3 linked regions of the Homo sapiens genome follow. The protein of the gene in region 1 interacts with the protein of each later gene in a biochemical or structural test. Each region holds a gene or a part of one and is shown in the gene's direction. Other genes may lie near its edges.

The links.
Region 2: of the proteins of CARD9 (region 1) and USP15, one has a biochemical effect on the other in vitro, tested with the Homo sapiens proteins (one study listed by BioGRID).
Region 3: of the proteins of CARD9 (region 1) and TRIM62, one has a biochemical effect on the other in vitro, tested with the Homo sapiens proteins (4 studies listed by BioGRID, with this or other methods).

What each region holds. Positions count from the first base shown.
Region 1 is NC_000009.12:136,370,670-136,378,406, reverse strand, and holds the start of CARD9 (caspase recruitment domain-containing protein 9), read left to right. Parts: upstream 1-4,737; 5' UTR 4,738-4,875; intron 4,876-6,312; 5' UTR 6,313-6,328; coding exon 6,329-6,512; intron 6,513-6,945; coding exon 6,946-7,083; intron 7,084-7,261; coding exon 7,262-7,566; intron 7,567-7,705; coding exon 7,706-7,737. Other genes in the region: SNAPC4 (snRNA-activating protein complex subunit 4), read left to right, coding at 1-864, 1,926-2,051. UniProt on the Homo sapiens protein: Adapter protein that plays a key role in innate immune response against fungi by forming signaling complexes downstream of C-type lectin receptors.
Region 2 is NC_000012.12:62,389,404-62,396,403, forward strand, and holds part of USP15 (ubiquitin carboxyl-terminal hydrolase 15), read left to right. Parts: intron 1-27; coding exon 28-111; intron 112-201; coding exon 202-296; intron 297-379; exon of another isoform or gene 380-393; coding exon 394-585; intron 586-1,460; coding exon 1,461-1,576; intron 1,577-1,753; coding exon 1,754-2,026; intron 2,027-2,412; coding exon 2,413-2,483; intron 2,484-2,852; exon of another isoform or gene 2,853-2,868; coding exon 2,869-2,984; intron 2,985-3,649; coding exon 3,650-3,799; intron 3,800-6,891; coding exon 6,892-6,995; intron 6,996-7,000. UniProt on the Homo sapiens protein: Hydrolase that removes conjugated ubiquitin from target proteins and regulates various pathways such as the TGF-beta receptor signaling, NF-kappa-B and RNF41/NRDP1-PRKN pathways.
Region 3 is NC_000001.11:33,179,044-33,186,389, reverse strand, and holds the start of TRIM62 (E3 ubiquitin-protein ligase TRIM62), read left to right. Parts: upstream 1-4,346; 5' UTR 4,347-4,957; coding exon 4,958-5,365; intron 5,366-7,346. UniProt on the Homo sapiens protein: E3 ubiquitin ligase that plays a role in antifungal immunity by mediating 'Lys-27'-linked ubiquitination of CARD9 downstream of C-type lectin receptors; leading to CARD9 activation, followed by activation of NF-kappa-B and MAP kinase p38 pathways.

The sequences.
Region 1 (7,737 bases):
AACAGGGAACCGGAGCCTTCCTGCAGGACAGACACCCCAGCTCCTCCCACACACGCCCTCTCCCAAAGTCCTGCAGAAGCGGATGGCAGTGTGGCCTTTGTCCCTGGAGAGGCCCAGGTGGCCAGGGAGATACCTGAGCCCAGGACGTCCTCCCACGCTGACCCTCCTGAAGCAGAACCCCCTTGGTCCGGGAGGCTGCCAGCCTTCGGTGGTGTCATCCCAGCAACTGAGCCAAGGGGGACGCCGGGGTCCCCCTCAGGGACACAGGAGCCCAGGGGGCCTCTGGGCCTGGAGAAGCTGCCCCTGCGCCAGCCTGGGCCTGAGAAGGGGGCCCTGGACCTGGAGAAGCCGCCCCTACCCCAGCCTGGGCCTGAGAAGGGGGCCCTGGACCTGGGCCTGCTGTCCCAGGAGGGCGAGGCGGCCACACAGCAGTGGCTGGGGGGCCAGCGGGGGGTGCGTGTGCCTCTTCTGGGCAGCAGACTGCCCTATCAGCCCCCAGCCCTGTGCAGCCTGCGAGCTCTGTCCGGTCTCCTACTCCACAAGAAGGCCCTGGAGCACAAGGCCACCTCCCTGGTGGTGGGGGGCGAGGCTGAGCGGCCGGCCGGAGCACTGCAAGCCTCACTGGGGCTGGTGCGGGGGCAGCTCCAGGACAACCCGGCCTACCTCCTGTTGCGGGCGCGGTTCCTGGCAGCCTTCACCCTCCCTGCGCTCCTGGCCACCCTGGCCCCCCAAGGCGTCCGCACCACCCTCTCAGTACCTTCGAGGGTGGGCTCTGAGAGTGAGGATGAAGACCTCCTGAGTGAGCTGGAACTTGCAGACAGGGACGGGCAGCCGGGCTGCACGACAGCCACATGCCCCATTCAGGTAGGGTGGGCGCCCAGCCCCACTTCCCCATGGCAGGCGGCGGTCCCTGGGGTGCCCTCGCCTGCCTGGAGCAGTGGGGTGGGGGCTGGTGGAAGTTGCGGGCAGGAAGGCTGGCTGCTGGGTGTCTTAGGAGGAGGAAGCTGGTTCCTGGCCTGCCCAGTTGCGTGTAGATTCTGCAGAAGTGGCCTCCCTTTGGGGCAGTGTGGAAAAGGGGAGAAGAGAGGCCTCATTCTCGTGCAGGAGCCTCCGGCCATCCTGATGCTGCCCAGCCAGGTGGCCTTGTCTGAGCGAGAAGCTCTGGGATGGACGCTGACCCGGCTCTGAGCCGCACACGCCACACACACGTGTGCTCCCAGGGTGGGCCATGGGCACAGTGGAGGGTGGTGGCTGTGTTTGTCTCTGGATTTCTGGGGTCCCAAAGGTCCCTCTCTGCTGTCACCTCTCTGAGTGTCCTTGGGGAGAGTTTTCCAATCTCTGTAGGTGAAACCATGTTTGGAACCCTGGAAAGCATGTGGAGCTGGGGCCCCCAGAGAGGCCTCCTCCCCTGGTGCCAGGGTGCCCACTTGCAGCAGCTGGGAGGCTGGCCTCCCTGAGAAACCACCAGAAGCAGGCAGCCTCAGCTGGACCTGTGGGCCTGTCATAGGGAGTGTGGCAGAGGGCCTTCCATCTCTCCCCAGGGTTGTGTCTCGCAAGTCCCTGGGCTGAAGTGTGGGAGGAAGCAATGTCCAAGAGTTGGGGAGGACCCCGGCCAGCCAGGGGAAGAGGCCCTCTGTGCCCCATCCATGTACAGCCTCCTGCCCTGCCTGGGTGTGATGGCTGTCCCATGGGGGAGTGGGAGGCCCACCAGAGGGATGGCTTGGATGGGGTCAGAGCCCCCGAGGGAGGGAGTGCACAGTCACGTGTGGCCCCAGGAGTGCCTGGAGCAGCTCCCGCCTGAGCTGAGGGTGCCCTGTCCCAAGTGGGACACTCACCCACAGGGCCCCTCCTCACTCCCGTCCCTTCCCCGTCCATCATGGCTCGGGGGTGTCACTCTTGTCCCCACTGCCTGGATTTTCTTTCAGGGAGCCCCAGACTCTGGTAAATGCTCTGCTTCCTCCTGCCTGGATACTTCTAATGACCCTGACGACCTGGACGTGCTCAGAACCCGGCATGCCAGGCACACCCGGAAGCGGAGGCGGCTGGTGTGAGCAGCAGGTGAGTCCTGAGTGGGGAGGCCACTGCCCTACAACCCAGGGGACAGAGTGGTGTCCAGATGGCAGGGGGCCTTGGCCTCTGCTCGGCTCTTTGGCGCTCACAGCAGGTGTGCTGGGTTAGGTGGGCAGGTCCAGGGTCATGGAGGCCCTCCAGGGGGAGAAGCATTTAACCCACATCCTTCCTGCTGGCCACCCATGCCTCGGGCCTTGGCACCACTGTGCCCCTGACCATAGGCTCATTCCCTGCCTTTGGGGTCTGGGCTCCTCCCTGGCCGCTGTGCTCTGGTGGTGCCCTGTTCCCGTGCATTGCTGCGTCGTCTCCCAGCTTGTAAAACGATCACCATCCCCAACCGCAGCCACCAGGCTGGCTCTTCACTGCTGGAGCCCTGGTGCCCTGGCCTGGCCCTTGGCGCATGTGGGTCAGGTTTACCAAGCAGACTGGGCGTGGCCGGCGCTGGGGTGGTCTTGGTTCCTGTTTGTCTGTCCCAGCCCTGCTTGGGGTCTGGCTGGGGTCAAGGGCACCCCCCACCTGGTGTTCCTGTGTTCCAGGACAAGCACTTTCTCAGAAGCCCGTGGCCCTGCTGACGAGAGACAGCCCACCCCCAGCCTGCAAGAGAGGCAGCCAGAGGCCAGGTATCTGCTGGCCGCTGACTGACCAGGTCCGCAGTGAACAGAGGCGGGCCTGCCGACTGACTGTGTGGCATGGAGCATGGCTGTTCCCCAAGTGCACACCTGAACACTTGGAGGAATAAAGTTCTGTTTTTAATTGTGGAGCTGGACACAGGCTGTTGTGGTTTTGTTGTCCTGAGGTACCGGGCAGTGTACAGGGACCCCCCACCTGGCTGGGGTCAGGCTGCTGCCTAGTGGCTGAGCCACCCTAGTGCAGGCAGTTCGGGAACAAGCAGGGTGCTGGGGGCCCAGAGCTGGGGTCCTGGAAGGCCTCCCGTACCCCGGCTGCCCTCCTGTCAGAGAAGCAGGCTTTCTTTCGCCCATTTCCTGGAAAGCATCTGTGGCTTTGTCCTTCAGGCTAGCCGGCACCCTCCCCAGATGGCTGCCAGCCCTCGCGCTGCCCTGGCTGACCCAGGGGGTTCCCTGGAACAGATGACCTGGCTACCCCGACACGGCGGCAGCCCCCACCCTCCACTGTTCCTTTTGCATGGGCCTTTATTGGCATAAGACTAGCCCCCATCTTCTCCGTCTGTCCCCTAGCTCCCTTTCCTTTGTCTCTGTGGCAGCAGCGCCCCCAGGCCCTTGGCTATCTGGGCTTCGATCCTTCACTGGAGCCACTGTGGGGCCTCAGCCCTGGGCACCTGGCAGACGGGACGGTCCCATGGCCGACCTCACTCCTGAGTATGTGTTGCTGTGCCTGGTTCTCTAGTCTGGTGCCTAGTCTGGGGGCCACTCTGATCTGTGGGTTATTTAGCGGTATATTATTTAATTTCCAAATATTTAGAGATTTTGCCGATATCTGTTACCGATTTTTAGCTTCCGATATGGTTAGAGAACATGGTATGTGTGTTCACTCCTAAGGACACACACCACAGGGAAGTCACTAAGGTCCGCGTTTTAAACGCTGGGGAAACACTGGGTCATGAGGGCCTGGTGCCAGCTCCGGTTCGCTCCCTGGCAGGGCCCAGGATGGCCCCGGCCTGCACACTCGCTCATGTTGATGGTGAGGGGTCCAGCAGGGGCACGGCCCCCTGGAATGTGGCATTCCCGAGAGCCCAGGAGGACCCCTAACTGTCCGCTCCTTAATGTGTGATGTCAGACGTTGTCCGCACAGAGGCCTGAGGGCTGGAGGCTGAGAACGGTTAGGCAAGCTCCACACCAGCTTCCTTGCCTTCCAGCCTGGCGGCCCCTTCTCGAACCTGTTGGGTGGCAACTCAGTTCAACCAGCTTTACCGGGTGAGGCGGGGCCTGGGGGTTCCCAAGCCTGCAGGGATGAGGCTCTGGCAGCCCACACGCTGAAGTGCACAGTTCAGGGCAGACTCTGCTGTCCGTTGTCCCTGGATGGGGGCCGAGCTGTGCCCTGCTGTCACCGGCTCTTCTGAAGCTGGTTTGGGGGACCCCGAGAGTGGCCTCAGTCCTCACATGCATCCTGGTGGAGAGCAGGGATGCCTCATGATGGGGATAACGAGGATAACGACACTTCTGGAAGGGACGTTTCTCCCCCGTGTGCAGCTGGGTGGTGGCCGATGCCATGGCCCCTGGCAGGCTGCTGTGGCCTCCTGGGCTCCATAAGGTGGGCTGCAGCCCTTCTGTGACCAAGGCGTGTGCTGGCCATGCCGTGTGGCTGTGTGCCCCCCTGCACATGCCCTGCCCCGCTGTCCTGAGATGCTGGCGAGGGCGAGGGTGTTCGCACAGAGCAAAGCATGCCTTACTGAAGAAGTCTCCAGAAGCCTGTGACCAGGTCAAAGTGGCTGGGTGCGGGCTGGCCTTGTCCAGCCCCCTGGGGGTCTCTGCTGTCTCTTCTACTTGCCAGGTGCCAGGGCTGGGCCTCTGGGGCATCCCCAGGACCCCCAGCCCCCGGCCAGGCTGGGAGGGCTGGGAGCAGCTTTCCTCTGGAGGGCAGCGGACTTCCACTTCCGTCTGCCTCTTGGGGCCTCCTGGGCTGGGCGAATCAGAAAGCAGGTCACCAGGGACTGTCCCCCTGTGGGAGGACTGGCGGGACTGTGGAGTTAAGCAGAACCCATCAGGAAGTGCACAGGCGTCCGGCGTGCTCCTCCCTCCCTGCAGCCCCGGGCAGCATCTCCCAGAGGCTCCGCGGCCCAGGCTCCTGGTGTGTCTGCAGTGCAGGTGGCTCCTGGAAGACCCTCAGGTGGGTGGGTCTGGTGCTTTCTGAAAGGTGGCCAGGAAGGTTGGCGTTGGCCTAGTTCAGGATCCTGGCACTGATCCCCCAGAGCAGCCTGAGGCTTCCCACAGGCAGCCAGGCAGCCTCCGCCATGCGGCCCCGTCCCTTTCACGGCCCCTGGGCGGAGATGTGTTCATTTCAGTGGAATTACGGTGGCAGATGGGACCCTGCATTTCAAGCTGGGGAAGCAGGAAAGGGGCCCAGTGTTCCCAGGACTGTCTACCGTGTGGCCAGTGTTTTTATTCAGTCCCTTGTCTGTCAAAACTGTCCTGAATGGGGTGACAAAGTGCAGCGGGAAGTTGAGAAATGCCTCAAAAGACCAAGCCTGGGGCAACTATGTCTCCAGGAGCAGTGACCCAGCTCCTCTGGGCTGGAAACCAGCGTTTCCCAGCGGGGCTGGAGGCTGTCTGAGGACCACGTGGCTGCTCCCAGCCTTGCCGCAGTCCCAGTCTCAGAGGGAGTGGCTTTCAGCGGCTGAGGCCCCCACCATGCTGGCAGAAAGGGACAGCAGTGGCTGGTCCCAACATGGGTAGTTCTGTTGCAGCCACTGGGATGGGGGCCGGGCCTCATCTGGGGCAGGAGAAGAGTCCAGGGATTCACTGGTGCCCGGCACCTCAACCTGGAGAAAACACCGCAGCAGCACTCCTGGCCAGCCAAGGGCAACACTGACAGCCCCTCCCAGGGTTGCGGGGCCGGCAGGGGGTGACAGAGACACGCTCCTGTGGGCAGCTCTTCCCGGCCAGTGCAGCGACCCCGCAGCTGCAGCAGGGCTGGGTGGCCACTCTTGCATCATCAGCAGCCGGCCGTGGAGGAGGGAGGGCACAGCCAGGGATGTGAGCAGGCGTCGGTCAGGGGAATGAGGAAGTCCCACAAGAACCGGCTCCCCCAGCTGCTGTGCTGGTGGGAGGGCCACTGGCCAACCTGCTCTCACCCAGCTTGGGCTGGCCATAGTGCCAGGCAGTTGCCCTCAGCTCCTCTGCCCATTCCAGCCATGGAGGTGGCTAACCTTGCAGGCTCCAGGGCGTGATGGGAGTGTCCAGGAGGCAGAGGCCAGAGGGGGTCATGCTGTAGGGGGAGTTCCTCTCTCAGACCCCATCTGTGCCTCCCCCGCTGCGTATCTGGGTGACATGGATGCCAACGGGCAGGAGCAAGGGCTGGGAAAGGCTGCGGAGGGGCCCTCGGCTGGTCTGGTGGGGAGCGGGGTCACTGTGTCTCTGCTGCCTCCCTGGGGGATCCAGCGTGGGGATGGGACATGGAGCTGGGCACCTCTCCTGGATGCCCCTGGGCTGATCCCCCTCGATGCCCTGACGAGAGCCCTGGCCCAGCGTCTGAGAAGGAGTGGGAGCTGGGCCCGGGTGGGGGCAGGAGCCGGCATCGCTCTCAGCACTGCCCCACACTCCCCAGCCTGCCTGCTGAGGCCATGTCGGACTACGAGAACGATGACGAGTGCTGGAGCGTCCTGGAGGGCTTCCGGGTGACGCTCACCTCGGTCATCGACCCCTCACGCATCACACCTTACCTGCGGCAGTGCAAGGTCCTGAACCCCGATGATGAGGAGCAGGTGCTCAGCGACCCCAACCTGGTCATCCGCAAACGGAAAGTGGGTCAGTGTTGCCCCGCGGGCCCCAGGCCCCAAACCCAACCACAGAGTCAGCTCGGAGGTGGCTGCACGCTCTGCCACCCTGACCCTCAACCCCAGGAGAGCCCCGCCTGGCTTTGCCCCTGGCCTCTGACTGAGGCCCAACCTCAACCCTGGCACGTGGCCCGTCCCCCAGCCTCTCCTGCCGGCTTGGTGCTGCCAAGAGGGGCAGCGGGGCTCCCACCGCAGCGGGGGCTCCTGAGACAGCCAAGGGGCGGGTGGGCAGCACTTGGTCCCCAGCCTAGTACCAAGACCCGCAGGGTACCTCATCCAAGACCCAGACCACGGCACACCTCATCTGCATGCCAGCCTCCACCTGTCCCTGCCCCCAGGCCCACCCACCCCAGCCCTCTGCCTCGCCTGTGCCCCGCCCCCAGTTAGGCCTCTCTGGCCCGCAGGTGTGCTCCTGGACATCCTGCAGCGGACCGGCCACAAGGGCTACGTGGCCTTCCTCGAGAGCCTGGAGCTCTACTACCCGCAGCTGTACAAGAAGGTCACAGGCAAGGAGCCGGCCCGCGTCTTCTCCATGATCATCGGTGAGTGACGGGGGAGGCGGGGCCGACAGGGGAGGCGCTGGCGGGGAGCGGGCAGTGGTGTTGGGTCCTCTGCCTGGCCCCCATCCCTAGGAGCCCTGAGCTCCTGCCACAGCGCAGGGCGTGATGGAGCTGGGCCACCGGGGAACACGGCACCATCTGACACTGGCCTGGCCCACAGACGCGTCCGGGGAGTCAGGCCTGACTCAGCTGCTGATGACTGAGGTCATGAAGCTGCAGAAGAAGGTGCAGGACCTGACCGCGCTGCTGAGCTCCAAAGATGACTTCATCAAGGAGCTGCGGGTGAAGGACAGCCTGCTGCGCAAGCACCAGGAGCGTGTGCAGAGGCTCAAGGAGGAGTGCGAGGCCGGCAGCCGCGAGCTCAAGCGCTGCAAGGAGGAGAACTACGACCTGGCCATGCGCCTGGCGCACCAGAGTGAGGAGAAGGGCGCCGCGCTCATGCGGAACCGTGACCTGCAGCTGGAGGTGCGCCCGCTGCCCCCGGGAAACCAGGCCACCCTCGCCTGGCCTGGCGGGGTCTGCAGGCCGGGGCGGTCGGGGGTGGCCCCACGGGTCTGCGGTCACCGCCTGGAGGGGACAGCCAGGCTCACTGGACCTTCTGCAGATTGACCAGCTCAAGCACAGCCTCATGAAGGC
Region 2 (7,000 bases), on another chromosome or scaffold:
TTCATTACAATTTTTTTTGTTTTTTAGTACAAAGTGGTTGTCCCCAAAATTGGAAACATATTAGATCTTTGTACAGCATTGTCTGCTTTGTCAGGAATACCTGCAGATAAGGTAAGATGTTTCTGGGGTTGAAGTATATAAGTTGGTATTTAGTTTCTCAGTGCTGTAAAACCAGCTTAATAGAAATTCGTTTCCTTTTAGATGATAGTTACTGATATATACAATCATAGATTTCACAGAATATTCGCTATGGATGAAAACCTTAGTAGTATTATGGAACGGGATGATATTTATGTGTAAGTATAAAACTCATTGTGCAAAATATTACTTGAAAAAAAATTAATAGAAGTAACATAAAATTTTGAGAGTTTATGGTCAGTTTTGTCCTTGTAGGTTTGAAATTAACATCAATAGGACAGAAGATACAGAGCACGTGATTATTCCTGTTTGCCTAAGAGAAAAATTCAGACACTCGAGTTATACCCACCATACTGGTTCTTCACTTTTTGGTCAGCCCTTTCTTATGGCTGTACCACGAAACAATACTGAAGACAAACTTTATAATCTCCTGCTCTTGAGAATGTGGTAAGTGCCAGACAATTCTACATTGACAAAATAAATATGGGAATAAAATATAAAATAGCTAATAAAAATAAACACATAAGGTACTATTGGAATATAATTATTCAAGTCTGTATTATCTCAATTTTGTTCATAGTCAGATTATAGTCCTAATCCACTTTCTTATTCATGTAAAACATATTATGGAGGTAATTTCAAACCCAGGAAGCACGAAGTCTGTAGCAGTTTTAAACCAAAAGTTTACAGTTAGAAGGACATAGGAATTTATGTTATAATAATTATGTGTTACATGTTCATTCTGTGAAATCATAACAAATGTCAAATGCCATATGTTTGCACTGTGAAATAACAAATGTCAAATGCTTCATTTCTTTATATACATTACCAGTTCATGATTAATAGTATTGTAAGGCAGCCTATTTTTTGCCTTCCTGAATAAATCCCTTGATTTGAATTATGAAGTTATCAAGAATGTCATTTGATCCCTTTTATCCTTGAAAGCTGGTATATTTAGTATTCTTTCTTGCATATCTAATTATTATAGTTTCATAACCCATATATAAAGATCACATTATACAAATATAAGTGTTTTTAGCAACAATATATACCATCTAAATAGGGTAAGTTGAGAAATTATTTGCAACAAACATTTAACATTTAACCTAAAAGGTAACATATTAATTATTTTTATAAAGATGAGCAAAACAAATTACTAGTCAGTTATACTTATGGTACTAAAAGTTTGAATTTATCTTTGAATCTACTAAGTGACCACTGTTACTGCATTAAAAAGTTTTGTTTTACTGATAGAAGGAAAACTTTTTAAAAGTTTTTATCTTTGTAGTACTGAACTTGTTTGATTTTTGATTTTACTTAAGCCGATATGTCAAAATATCTACTGAAACTGAAGAAACTGAAGGATCCCTACACTGCTGTAAGGACCAAAATATTAATGGGAATGGCCCAAATGGCATACATGAAGAAGGCTCACCAAGTAAGACTTTTCTGTTAAATTGTACAAATGTTTCACTTAGATAATTGCCTCAGAGAAAAAGTTAAGAAAATGGGAATTAAAGAACTAAAAAATACCTGGAAACCTAGGATTAATAATATTAATAATTTAAAAATATAGCATTGGGTTTATTTAAAGCTCTCTAATATCTAAAATTAGGTGAAATGGAAACAGATGAGCCAGATGATGAATCCAGCCAGGATCAAGAACTTCCCTCAGAGAATGAAAACAGTCAGTCTGAAGATTCAGTTGGAGGAGATAATGATTCTGAAAATGGATTATGTACTGAGGATACTTGCAAAGGTCAACTCACGGGACACAAAAAACGATTGTTTACATTCCAGTTCAACAACTTAGGCAATACTGATATCAACTACATCAAAGATGATACCAGGCATATAAGATTTGATGATAGGCAGCTTAGGCTAGATGGTAAGTATTTGTGAAAAATGGCTTGAACATTAAACAAGCCGAGCATGTTATTTTTTTTTTAGGTGAAAACCATGAAATTCAGCTCTGTCAAGAAATATACCATTTACTTTTCTATCTCAAATTTTACATGAAAGGACTTAATATCTAAGTAGACTAAAATGTGTGTTTGTGTTTCATAAATGGAGATTGAACTCATGCTTCAGTTTTCTATCTTTTTTTAAACTCTTAAATTATTTCAATGGCTTGGAAACTGCTGTTTGCCCTAATCACCAGTACAAGTAGAAAAGATTGCTGTTTGTTTATTCTGGTGTATATCCTAACATTAAAATATACTTTAATACTAAGACATATTAAATTTTAAAGAAAAAATATGTTTTCCACCTTAGAAAGATCTTTTCTTGCTTTGGATTGGGATCCTGATTTGAAAAAAAGATATTTTGATGAAAATGCTGCTGAGGTAAGTCATCACTCACTCACTTATTTACCTTTCCTTGATTTACTTTATGTGATTACCAGAGATAATCATACTGTTGTGTTACACTCTTTGCTTCCACCAAATATGTTTATTTTGCCAGTAAAAAATTGGTCATGAACTAGAAAAAAAAGTCTTTGCAAAAATACCTTTTTTTTTTAAAGGTTCAGAGTTCATTTTGAACGTGTTTTGGTCATCCATATAGAAGTGTACAGGAATTATTTAGAAGTATATAAATCTCAACTGAAATAAGCTTTATGATTCTTTTGAGAAAGTTTAGGAGTTTTCATTATTATTCATAGTAAGATGGTATCACTAAAATGAGTTTTGTTTCATTTGTTCTCTTAACTCAAGAAATACTTCTCTTTAGGACTTTGAAAAACATGAAAGTGTGGAGTATAAACCTCCTAAAAAACCCTTTGTGAAATTAAAAGATTGCATTGAACTTTTTACAACAAAAGAAAAGCTAGGTGCTGAAGATCCCTGGTAAGAGACAAAATTAAATAATTGTTTTTGTTTTCTTTAAGGATTTATTCTGAGATATGTGCCACATCAAGTTGAAAAAGTAATTACTAAATTCTCTTTGATGTTTTAAATAGTAAAGGATTCTTTATATAAGTTGTAGCCTATTAAGAGGGATGGGAATGTCTTAAAAAATACGATTACAGTGTTGCCTTAATTTTATTACTGTGTTTTTCATAATAGCCATTATACTATTAATTCATTTTAGTTACCTTTTTTCCAAGAAATTTTAGCTATGTAATCATTTTGAGAGAAGCTTTTTAGGAAAAATGTAGTGATATATTTTGTGGTGTTATTCCATTAGAGCCCAGATTTGAGATTTTCTAATACCTGTCTTCCAGCACAGATTTGTGACCTATGTCTTTTTTGCATACTAAAAGAGAAATAATCTAGCCCTCATTATGTCTTTAAGTATTTATTTGTATATTAATTTGTAATGGTTTAACCTATTTGGAAAATGTCTTGAAAATAAAAATAATAAGAGTTGCTTTCAACCTGGTACATATTAGGCATACTATAATTGCCCACTGAATAAATGTAGAACTTTCCAAACATTTTTGTTTATTATTTTCATTAATGGGGGTTGTTTGTACCTCTATCAAGTGTTAAATACTTCTGTTTATTCTTAGGTATTGTCCGAATTGTAAAGAACATCAGCAAGCCACAAAGAAATTGGATTTATGGTCCCTGCCTCCAGTACTTGTAGTACATCTCAAGCGATTTTCTTACAGTCGATACATGAGAGACAAGTTGGATACCTTAGTTGATTTTCCTATCAAGTAAGCTTTAATTGTACTTTATAAGCATTGGGCAACTCTTCTTTCAAACTTATTTGATGCTTTTTGTTATTATCCTTTAGTAAACATCAGGTGCCATTGGACCCAATTTCAGCTTTCAAGTTTGTTTTTGAGTAGTTCTAACAGTTTATAAGGATCAGTGTTTCAAAATTTTTATTTTTTCTTAGAGATTTTCCAAAGATCAAAGAGAAAATATACTTTAAAAAAATAAAAACAATAAAAATCCTTCTGTGTTATATTACCTATGGGTTAATTGGTCTCATTTATAAATCTAAGATACTTTATGGTACTTAGTGATTTTGTTTATCCTAGGAATTACTTCATCATTACTCATCACTTACTCCTAAATATGTTGGGGTTTTTTGGTGTTTCTTTTGTTTGTTTTTTGAGACAGGGTCTCACTCTGTTGCCCAGGCTGGAGTGCAATGGTGCAATCTCGGCTCACTGCAACCTCCACCTCCTGGATTCAGGTGATTCTCCTGCCTCAGCCTTCCAAGTAACTGGGATTATAGCCACCCGCCATCATGCCCGGCTAATTTTTAGTACAGACGAGGTTTCACCATATTGACCAGGCTGGTCTCGAACTCCTGACCTCAAGTGATCCACCCGCCTTGGCCTCCCAAAGTGCTGGGATTACAGGCATGAGCCACTGTGCCCAGCCCTAAATATGCTGTTTTCAAAAAGACTAAAATAAAACAACAATGGAATTGCTTAGAAGGATAACACAGTAGTGAAATAAATCATCCCTATTGCATTATCCTTCAGTTTTCCTATTGCCATTATATGACATCATATTTGTAAAAAGATATATCTATGGCCATACCACCTTGAACGTACCCTGATCTTGTCTGTAAAAAGATACAAAGAAGTCTGTATACATCTTCACACTTTATCTCTCTTTTTTTCTTCCCCTGCTTTTAACAGTTGAGAATTCAGAATGACAAAAAGGGAACATTGTATTCCCCGTCACTTAGTTATTCAGCAGAAGGACTTCATCACACAATATTTTGTACAAGTACTTGGTACTATCCCATTTTGCAAAAAGAACTTTCAGCGGTATTATTTCATATCCTGTGATATTTGTACACCAAAATGTACTTGATACAGTTAGTAAGTAGACAATTGCTAAAGGCAGGTGTATCTATAAAGGTAACTAGAAGGAAATAGATTACATAAAACAAAATATTCACTGGATTACTCATTCTAATTGGTGGCTATAAATTTAAAATTTAAAATTATTTGTAATTATTGAGTGAAAAAAAGATCATTTTCTCTTTAACAAAATAGTGAGCCATAAGTTTTCAAGAATATAGCATTTGGCAATGTAAGTATAAGAAAAAGAATCAGGGCTGGGCACAGTGGCTCACGCCTGTAATCCCAGCACTTTGGGAGGCCGAGGTGGGTGGATCACAAGGTCAGGAGAGCAAGACTATCCTAGCCAACGTGGTGAAACCCCATCTCTACCAAAATTCAAAAACATTAGCCGGGCATGGTTGTGCGCGCCTGTAGTCCCAGCTACTCGGGAGGCTAAGGCAGGGGAATCGCTTGAACCCAGGAGGCGGAGATTTCAGTGAGCTGAGATCGCGCCACTGCACTCCAGGCTGCCTGGCGACAGAGCGAGACTCCCTCTCAAAAAAAAAAAAAAAGAATCAGAAGTAATGACAAACTAGAATCTATCAGAGATGTATTTAAAATTTAGAATCATTATTGCTTTTTAATGATGCAAATACAAGAAGAACAACCAGAAATAATAATAAGCTATTTACAAGAAGTCGTTTTCCAGGTTCTTGAATGATAGATTTTGATTAGTCAGTTACATTCAAAGGATGTTGCCCATTTCGGGTATATAGGTCATCAAAGACAGCAAATGTAGAATAAAAATTAAGGTTTGATATATTAATATTTTTTAAAACTTCTAAGGAAGTTTTCACTATTCCTGTATTTTTCTTCATATAAATCACTTCCTCTTTTTTAATCTCTGACCCTGCCCATAAATTACTTTCTAAAATTGACTGTAAAATAAAGATCTACTGGACCCAGATGGTCAATAGTGATGACTGTTTTTCCTGGTATACTGAGAGTTAAATGTGTTAGCATGAAAACGTTTATCTGAATGACAACATTCCACATTTTTATTTTATTTTATTTTTTTATTTTTGTGGGTACATAGTAGGTGTATATATTTGTGGGGTACATGAGATGTTTTGATGGAGTGTGAAATAGTCACATTATGGAGAATGGGGTATCCATCCTCTCAAGCGTTTATCGTTTGTGTTATAATCCAGTCACACTCTTAGTTATTTTTAAATGTATAATTAAGTTATTATTGACTATAGTCACCCTGTTGTGTGATCAAATAGTATGTTTTATTCATTCGTTTTTTTTTTTAACCCGTTAACCATCCCCACCTTACATCTCCCCTACCTTCCCACCACACTTGTCATCCTCTAGTAATCATCCTTCTACTCTGTCTGTCTATGAGCTCAATTTTTTTTTATTTTTAGATCCCACAAATGAGAACATGGGATGTTTGTCTTTCTGTGCCTGGCTTATTTGATTTAACATAATCTCCAGTTCCATCCATGTTGTTGGAAATGGCAGGATCTCATTCCTTTTTATAGCTGAATAGTACTTCATTGTGTATATGTACCAGATTTTCTTTAGCCATTTATCTGTTGATAGACACTTAGTTCCATCAACATTGCAACACATAGTTTCGTCAAATCAACAAGATTTGGTTGTTTCCAAATGTTAGCTGTTGTGACCATTGCTGCGACAAACATGGGGAGTGCAGATATCTCTTCAGTATACTCAATGAAGCATTTTAAAATTTTCAACCCATAAACAAATGTTTGCCAAAACATTAATATCTCAGAGGTACATGTATGATTTGTTTTGTAAGTTATTTGACTCATGATAATTTCCTTAGTGAGATATATATATATATAGATAGATATATATAGATGGATAGATATAGATATATATATGTATGTCAAACAACAATGGCAGAAGGGAATAGAATTCATTGCATTTAGGGACAACATAAAAATTAACTTGGTTTCTTTTTTAAACAGTGACTTGGATATGTCGGAATTCTTAATTAATCCAAATGCAGGTCCTTGCCGCTATAATCTGATTGCTGTTTCCAACCACTATGGAGGGATGGGAGGAGGACACTGTAAG
Region 3 (7,346 bases), on another chromosome or scaffold:
TCTCCTTAAGGCACATCACAGCCTTCTTGTGCTTGAGAACACCAGAGAGCACTTCAGCACAATGCTTGGGGCCATTTTAAATAGCAAAATCACCAACAAAAAGGCACAAAAAATGAGAACGGTTCGCACCAAATAAGTCACAAAAAGAATACTTGTTTACACTATGACAGCTGAGACAAGAAGGCAGGGTGTCCCTTTGTTCACCTTCAGCTGGGAACATATGTGTGGGTAAGTCAAGATTTTCACCACTGCACATAAGTATGTCCACAAATAATAGCAATTGTGCCTCAAGTATTGATTTGAAGGTTACAAATAAATTTTAGAAGTAGGTGATTTTGCAAATATGGAATCCATAAATAATGAGGATCAATTTTCTTTATTTTTTCTGATTACAAAAATATATATAATAAACAGAGCTATCTAATGTAAAAGTTAAAGTCCCCCATAATCCCAGCCCACAAAAGAACACAATTAGAATATAGTTCTATAGAATTTTTGTTATGCAAATAATGCCTGTGATTGTGTCTAAGTCTGTGGGTGTCTATGTGTCAGTGTATTTGGGTCTTTCTTTTCTTTTTCTCACTCAACAATAGCTCTTGGATAGCTTTCCAGAAAAAAAAATTCCTGATGTTAATTTCTGGAGTATGAATGGAAGCAGATGGCATACACTGCAGTCAGGATCTCTAAGTCTTAGTTCAGACCACTCAACCACATCAGATGTGGAGAGAGCAATGACTTGCCAAATGTAAAGATAATCAACAGTTTTAGTGTTCTGCATCTTAATGGAGATGGAATAAGGTCAAGAGAAGAACTGCTCAGAGGATAAAAGGACTGAACACTGGGAAGTAAAGTGAAAGAGAAGAGACTGGGTCGGGCACGGTGGCTCACACCTATAATCCCAGCACTCTGGGAGGCCAAGGCAGGCAGATCACTTGAGGTCAGGAGTTTGAGACCAGCCTGGCCAACATGGTGAAACCCCCTCTCTACTAAAAATACAAAAATTAGCTTGGCGTGGTGGCGGGCACCTGTAATCCCAGCTACTCGGGAGGCTGAAGCACAAGAATTGCTTGAGGCTGGGAGGTGGAGGTTGCAGTGAGCCAAGATTGCACCACTTCACTCCAGCCTGGGCAACAGAGCAAGACTCCATCTCAAAAGAAAAAAAAAAGAGTCTGTGACTTTCAGCCAGAGAAAACCACATACTATGTCCTTTGGAGGAGATTAGACCTACATATTAAGACTATCTACTGAAAGGATTTAGACAATAGAGTAAAATAGTACCAGAGCCTCTTCTAAAAACAGCTGCAAAATTGGCTGGGCGCAGTGGCTCATGCCTGTATTCCCAGCACTTTGGGAGGCAGAGGCGGTTGGATGACCTGAGGTCAGGAGTTTGAGACCAGCCTGACCAATATGGTGAAACCCTGTCTTTACTAAAAATACAAAAATTAGCCAGGCATGGTGGTATGCGCCTGTAGTCCCAGCTACTAGGGAGGCTGAGATAGGAGAATCACTTGGACCTGGGAGGCAGAGGTTGCAGTGAGCCAAGATCATGCCACTGTGCTCCAGCCAGGGTGACAGAGCGAGACTCCATCTCAAATAAATAAATAATAAAAACAGCTGCAAAATAGTATGGAGAAAGCTGGGCTGCTGCAACAAAAGACCCAAAATACAATGGCTCTTAGAAAATAAGTTTACTTCTCACTCTGTAGTCCATGTCAGGGTGGCTGTACTTCATGCAGTCATTCAGGAACCCAGGATCCTCCCATATCTTTGCTCCATCAGCCCTTTTGAAGCATTATTGAAGCTGTGTCCCTGGTACATCTATGTTCCAACTCAAGAGAAGAGAAAATGGAGCATGGGAGAGCAAAAGCTTCATGCCTTAAGGTCTATTTCTATTTATGTTCTATTAGAAAGATTTTAGTCACCAAGTCTCACTCGGCTGCAAGAACAGCTGGGATGTATGATCTCTAGTGGACCAGCCATTCCTCCGACTGCTACTCTACTACATAGAAGAACAGGAGGATGAAGTTTAGTGGACAGCTAGCAATTTCCATCACATCTCCTTTATTTGAGCCTTGGTATCTTCCTCTATAAAACGGGGATAATAATATAAACTAGTTAAGGCTGCTTTGGGACTGAAATCCAATAATATATGTGAGAATGCTTAGCAAGCCCTACTGTGCCTGATAAGAATTTCTCATTGATTTTGCCCTCTAGACTGCCAGCTCCTTGGGAGCAAGGAGCATAGTTTATTCCACCTCCTCACAAAGACCTGCTTGGAGTCAGCATCAGTAAATACATGTTGAATAATGAAGTCACTGTTTCATCCATCATCAAGCCTTTTTTTTTTTCATTTCATTTCAAATGCTTCAATAATTTAGACTCTGCCCTGTTCACTTTCCCCACCCCCTCATTAGGGGTGCACGTCAGTATATCAGTTGGGATTCTCTGGGTTGCAAAGTGACAATGCACTACTGTTAAACTGGCTTATGCAATAAGATGGACCATCTCACATATCCTGAAGTCCAGACTCTGCATCAGAATAAAAGCTTCTCTTCCCTAGGACTCTCTTGGCCTTGCCCTCCCTTCTGTATTTGCTGCATCCTCAGACTGGGAGCAAGATGGCTGTTGCAATTCCAAGCATTGCCACCAAACATATCCCAGCAAAGGGGGCAGACTGTTTTGCAAAGTAAAGAGACCATTTCCTGAAAACCCCTCTCTGCCATAGGCTTCCCCTTTAGTTTTTCAGGCTGGACCTGCCCAAACCGTCACTGGCAAGAGGAATGAGACCACCATAATGGACTTGGACCAAACAAGACTCACTCCATGAGACCACCATAATGGACTTGGACCAAACAAGACTCACTCCTGGAAATGGGCTGGGGTCAGCCTTCCTTGGGTCACTTGGGGAAGGGGGCCACCTGACCAAAATCAGGGCTCTGCCCATAAGAAAATGTTGAGAAACTGCTGTTGCATGAGCAACCAACTATTTTTCTCGCAATGATGGAGATTCTGGGCCAGATGAGGGTGTGATGGAGAAAGTGTTAACCATAGAGAACTAAACTGAGAGCTTTTTCATAAACTGTACCTCAATAAAGTTTAACACCAATGAAGATATTTCTGGAGGAGGCAGAAACTGGTAGCCACCCTCTATGGCTCATTTCCCTCACCCCCGTATCCAACCATCACCAAATGTCACCGTGTCTGTACTTGCAATACCCTAGTCTTCTCTCCTTACCCACTGCTGAGGCCCCAGTTCGGGTCTCACCTCCTGCAGGCACGATGACAACAGCACCTTAGGGGTGCCCAGTCTTTCCTTCCTCCTGCAACCCAGGGCGTTGATGCGGTTATTCAGCTACACACCTTTACTGTGTGCTGAGTGCTGTGCATCCGCAGACACATTGGAAAAGCTCCCTGTCTTCTTCACCTTGCAGATGGTATAATGATTATCTCCAAGACTTCCTGAAACCCAATCGGACCAGGTCATTCCCTTGCCTGAAAGCCCCATGCCTTCAAGAAATTCTTTACCATGACCCACAATGCCCTCCAGCCCACCCAGGCTCCTTCTCCACCCCACCCCCAACAGTACAGAATTACTAGCACTTCCTTCACTGCGCCCTCCCCTTTCACGCCTCTATGCTTTTGCACAGGCTGTCTCCTCTGCCTAGAAATCCCTTATCCCCTCTCCATCTGGCACACAAGACAAGTTCTCCTATTACTTTTTCTCCCTCTCTCCTGCTCCACCCCTCACCGCCTTACACACACACACACACACACACACACACACACACAAATACAGCACTCCAGAATTGTTTGCCAATGGAGGCAGCCTCCGGGGCCAGATGTTAGCCAGGGCTTTCCAAACTTCTCCCCAAGCACTCCTTAAGAAAGTGAAGAGGAAATGGGACCCCAGGGCTTAGGAGTGTGAGGGCCTTGAACTCGCTCTAAGCAAGCAGGGCATTTCAAGAGTTTTATCTTTATATTTTATGCAGAAGTTGTATTCCAAATATATTCTTGTTCGTTTTAATACAAAATATGATTTTTTCTACATCTTCAAATCGATGATCCAGAAAGATGCTCCTTGTTTATTTGTTGTGCTCTCAAATTAGCTGCTCCGCCTCGCCGCGGGGACCCTAAGCGAGACCTGGATGCAGTTCCAAGTACACACCCCGAAGGAACAGCTGGGCTTCGCTTCCCTGGGAGCTGGAGGATGGTGGGGGTGGGGCGGGGTCAACCGGCTGGTGGCCCCGCCCCTCCCCCGCCCGCTGCGGGGGCGGAGTTGCTTGGGTCCCGCCCACGGGGGCGGGGAGGCAGCCGCGGCCACCGGCAGCTCGGATTCGGCTGGTTCCGGGTTGAGAGGCTGCGCTGGACCGAAGCGGTGGCTGCTAAGCTCGCGGGGGTAAGGGGTCGCGCTGGGCCAGGGTTTGGGGCCGGGATCCGGCAGCTGAGCGGGCCGGCACCCCTCCTCTTCTCTGCCGGTCACAGCCAATGTACGGCTCGGCCTGGCTGCCCCCTCCCCCAGGATTCCCCATCCCCAGCTTCTCGCCCTCCCCGCACCGCCCCCACCCCGGGATTTCGACCCCCTTAAGGGCTCCACCCCGCTCCGGGATCCCCTTCTCCCAGCTCCTATCCCTTAGGACTGCCCCGCCCCCTAGAACCTCCCCGTCAGGATCTCCGTCCCTCAGCCGCTCACAGCCTCCTCCCAGCGCCCATCGCCTTGAGCTGCCCACTACCTCTAGACTGCCCTCCCGGGCTGGCGTCCCACGGAGTCTCAGCCGCGCACCCCTTCCTCGCGTTACCCTCCTTCCGGACAGCACCCCCTCCCTTCTCCGGTAGCTCCTACCCCTGCCTGTGCGGGCCTCGTCCCCGCGCCCAGCCCTCGGTGCTGCCTCCGACAGCGCCGCGCTCTCTCAGCCGCCCCCCTGCCCCTCGGGCCCCCCTCTCTGCTGCCCCTGGCGCCATGGCGTGCAGCCTCAAGGACGAGCTGCTGTGCTCCATCTGCCTGAGCATCTACCAGGACCCGGTGAGCCTGGGCTGCGAGCATTACTTCTGCCGCCGCTGCATCACGGAGCACTGGGTGCGGCAGGAGGCGCAGGGCGCCCGCGACTGCCCCGAGTGCCGGCGCACGTTCGCCGAGCCCGCGCTGGCGCCCAGCCTCAAGCTGGCCAACATCGTGGAGCGCTACAGCTCCTTCCCGCTGGACGCCATCCTCAACGCGCGCCGCGCCGCGCGACCCTGCCAGGCGCACGACAAGGTCAAGCTCTTCTGCCTCACGGACCGCGCGCTTCTCTGCTTCTTCTGCGACGAGCCTGCACTGCACGAGCAGCATCAGGTCACCGGCATCGACGACGCCTTCGACGAGCTGCAGGTGCGCTACCCGGCCTGCCTGGGGAAGGGGCGGGGCCGGGCTGGAGGTGGGGCCGGGCGGGGGGTGGGGTCAGGGCTGGACCGCGGGCCAGGCCCAGTCAGAATGGTCCTGGGGCGGGGCCGCCAGCAAGGTCAGGGCCCTATCAGGAGTAACGCGGGGCAGGGAGGGGCGGGGCCGCCGCATGGCGGGGCCGTGGGGGCGGGGCCTTGGGCAGTCCGGACCCTGAGGGATCTGAGACAGACCTGGAGTACCGGCTGGTCCGCGGTTAGGGAGAAGTCGGGGATGCGGATGGGATGGCGGAAACAAGTGAGATCAGAACTGGACCAGATACTGGGCTGGGGCAGGGTTGTGGACGAACCGGAATCAGAGTTGGGCAAAGGCAGGGCCACTGTCAGACTGAGGGCGAGGTCGCGAGGATGGGTCTGTATTAAACCGGGTAGCTGAGCTCTGGCAGGCTGGGGGTTCTGTGGGGGCGGAGACCGGATCAGATGTGCATCAGGACTAAGAGGAGTACGGGGGCTAGAATGTGCTGGACAGGTGAGGGTGAAACCTAATAGAGTGGTATAAGTTAGGGTGCCAAAGTGCTGAGAGGGCAGGTTTGAGTACCGAGGGTTAGGCCAAGGTGTATGAGGGGTTAAGACTGAGATCAGGTCCGGATACTCTACAACAAGTTTAGATTTAAGCCAGAGTAGAGGCCAGGTTGAGTGGGGCCAGGACTTAAAGGTAAAGATTTGGAGAATAAGGCCCAGATGTAAGGTGATTCAAGAAGGGAGGGGCTAGACCTCTAGGAGTCTCTAGAGGTTTTTGATGACCTCTTTGGCTCTGTCCCCCACATCAGGACTTTTGAAGACTAAGTGAAACGGTACATGCAGAGTGACCTGAGCATAGTTGGCATAGAACTCTAATCGGTCTCCCTTAAGACTTCCTGTCTTCACTGACAAACTCCTACTCAACTTTTATTGAGCCTTGCTCAAATATCCTCTCCGTGAAGCCTTCTCCAAGTTCCACTGGTCAAACAAACAAACAAACAAACAAAAACATTAGAACTGCATTTCCCCAAATGCTCTCTATTAATAAGTGTGGGAAATATAGTATATTTTTTATACCCACCCCCTTGGAGAATTTTCAGTGTGCATTTGCATATTAAAAGCTTAGAGAAATTTTGTTGCAAATAAATCTATTTTACTGTGTTTAATAAAATGGTTCCCAAGCTTACTTGGGCCTGGAATCCTTTTTTCAAGCTAAATCACTTAAATCCAGCAGCCCCATGTACCTGGCTTTGGGATACTAGTCGAGCACGTAGTTCTCCAAGGCCAGAGACAGAATCTTATTTCTCCTATCTATGGCCCCAAAGCCTGGTGCAAGGCCTGGCCCACAGTACACACCAATAAAGGCCAAATGAATGAACGAAAGAATGACCAACCCTGGCCTAAGCTGGACCACACTGTGGAGCGTTTGGAAGCAGAAGGTTTTTGGCTCAAACATTTTATGAAAATGGAGTGGGCTAACTTGGGAGGTAATGAGCTCTCTGGCCTCGAGATACTCAAACAGAAACTAAATAATTACTTTCCCCTGTATTGTAGGGGCTCCCAACCCCTCCACACACTAGTCTTTGAGTAGGCCTGCACCCAGCAGATGCCCATGGGCCTCAGGAGAAATGGCCCATGTTCACCATCGCTCCTTCCCTGTCCCTTTTATCTCAAAACTACAACTGACTCCCTTCCAGTCTAGCTGTCTGAGGATGAAGGCCCCATCAGAGGGTGAGCAAGGGCCTGGGCCTCTGGGAGCCTGCACAAGGCTTGGCCCTCCACCCCCAGAGCCATCGTTTTAGGCGCTGCTGCTGTCCATCTCCCCGTCTATGGAGTCACATAAGCAGGAAGAGTTTGAGGGGACTCTGTCTGAAACCATCTGTCCAACCTCTTCATCATGTAGGAATGGAAAGTGAGGCCTGGAGAAGTTATGTGACTTGCCCAAGGCCACA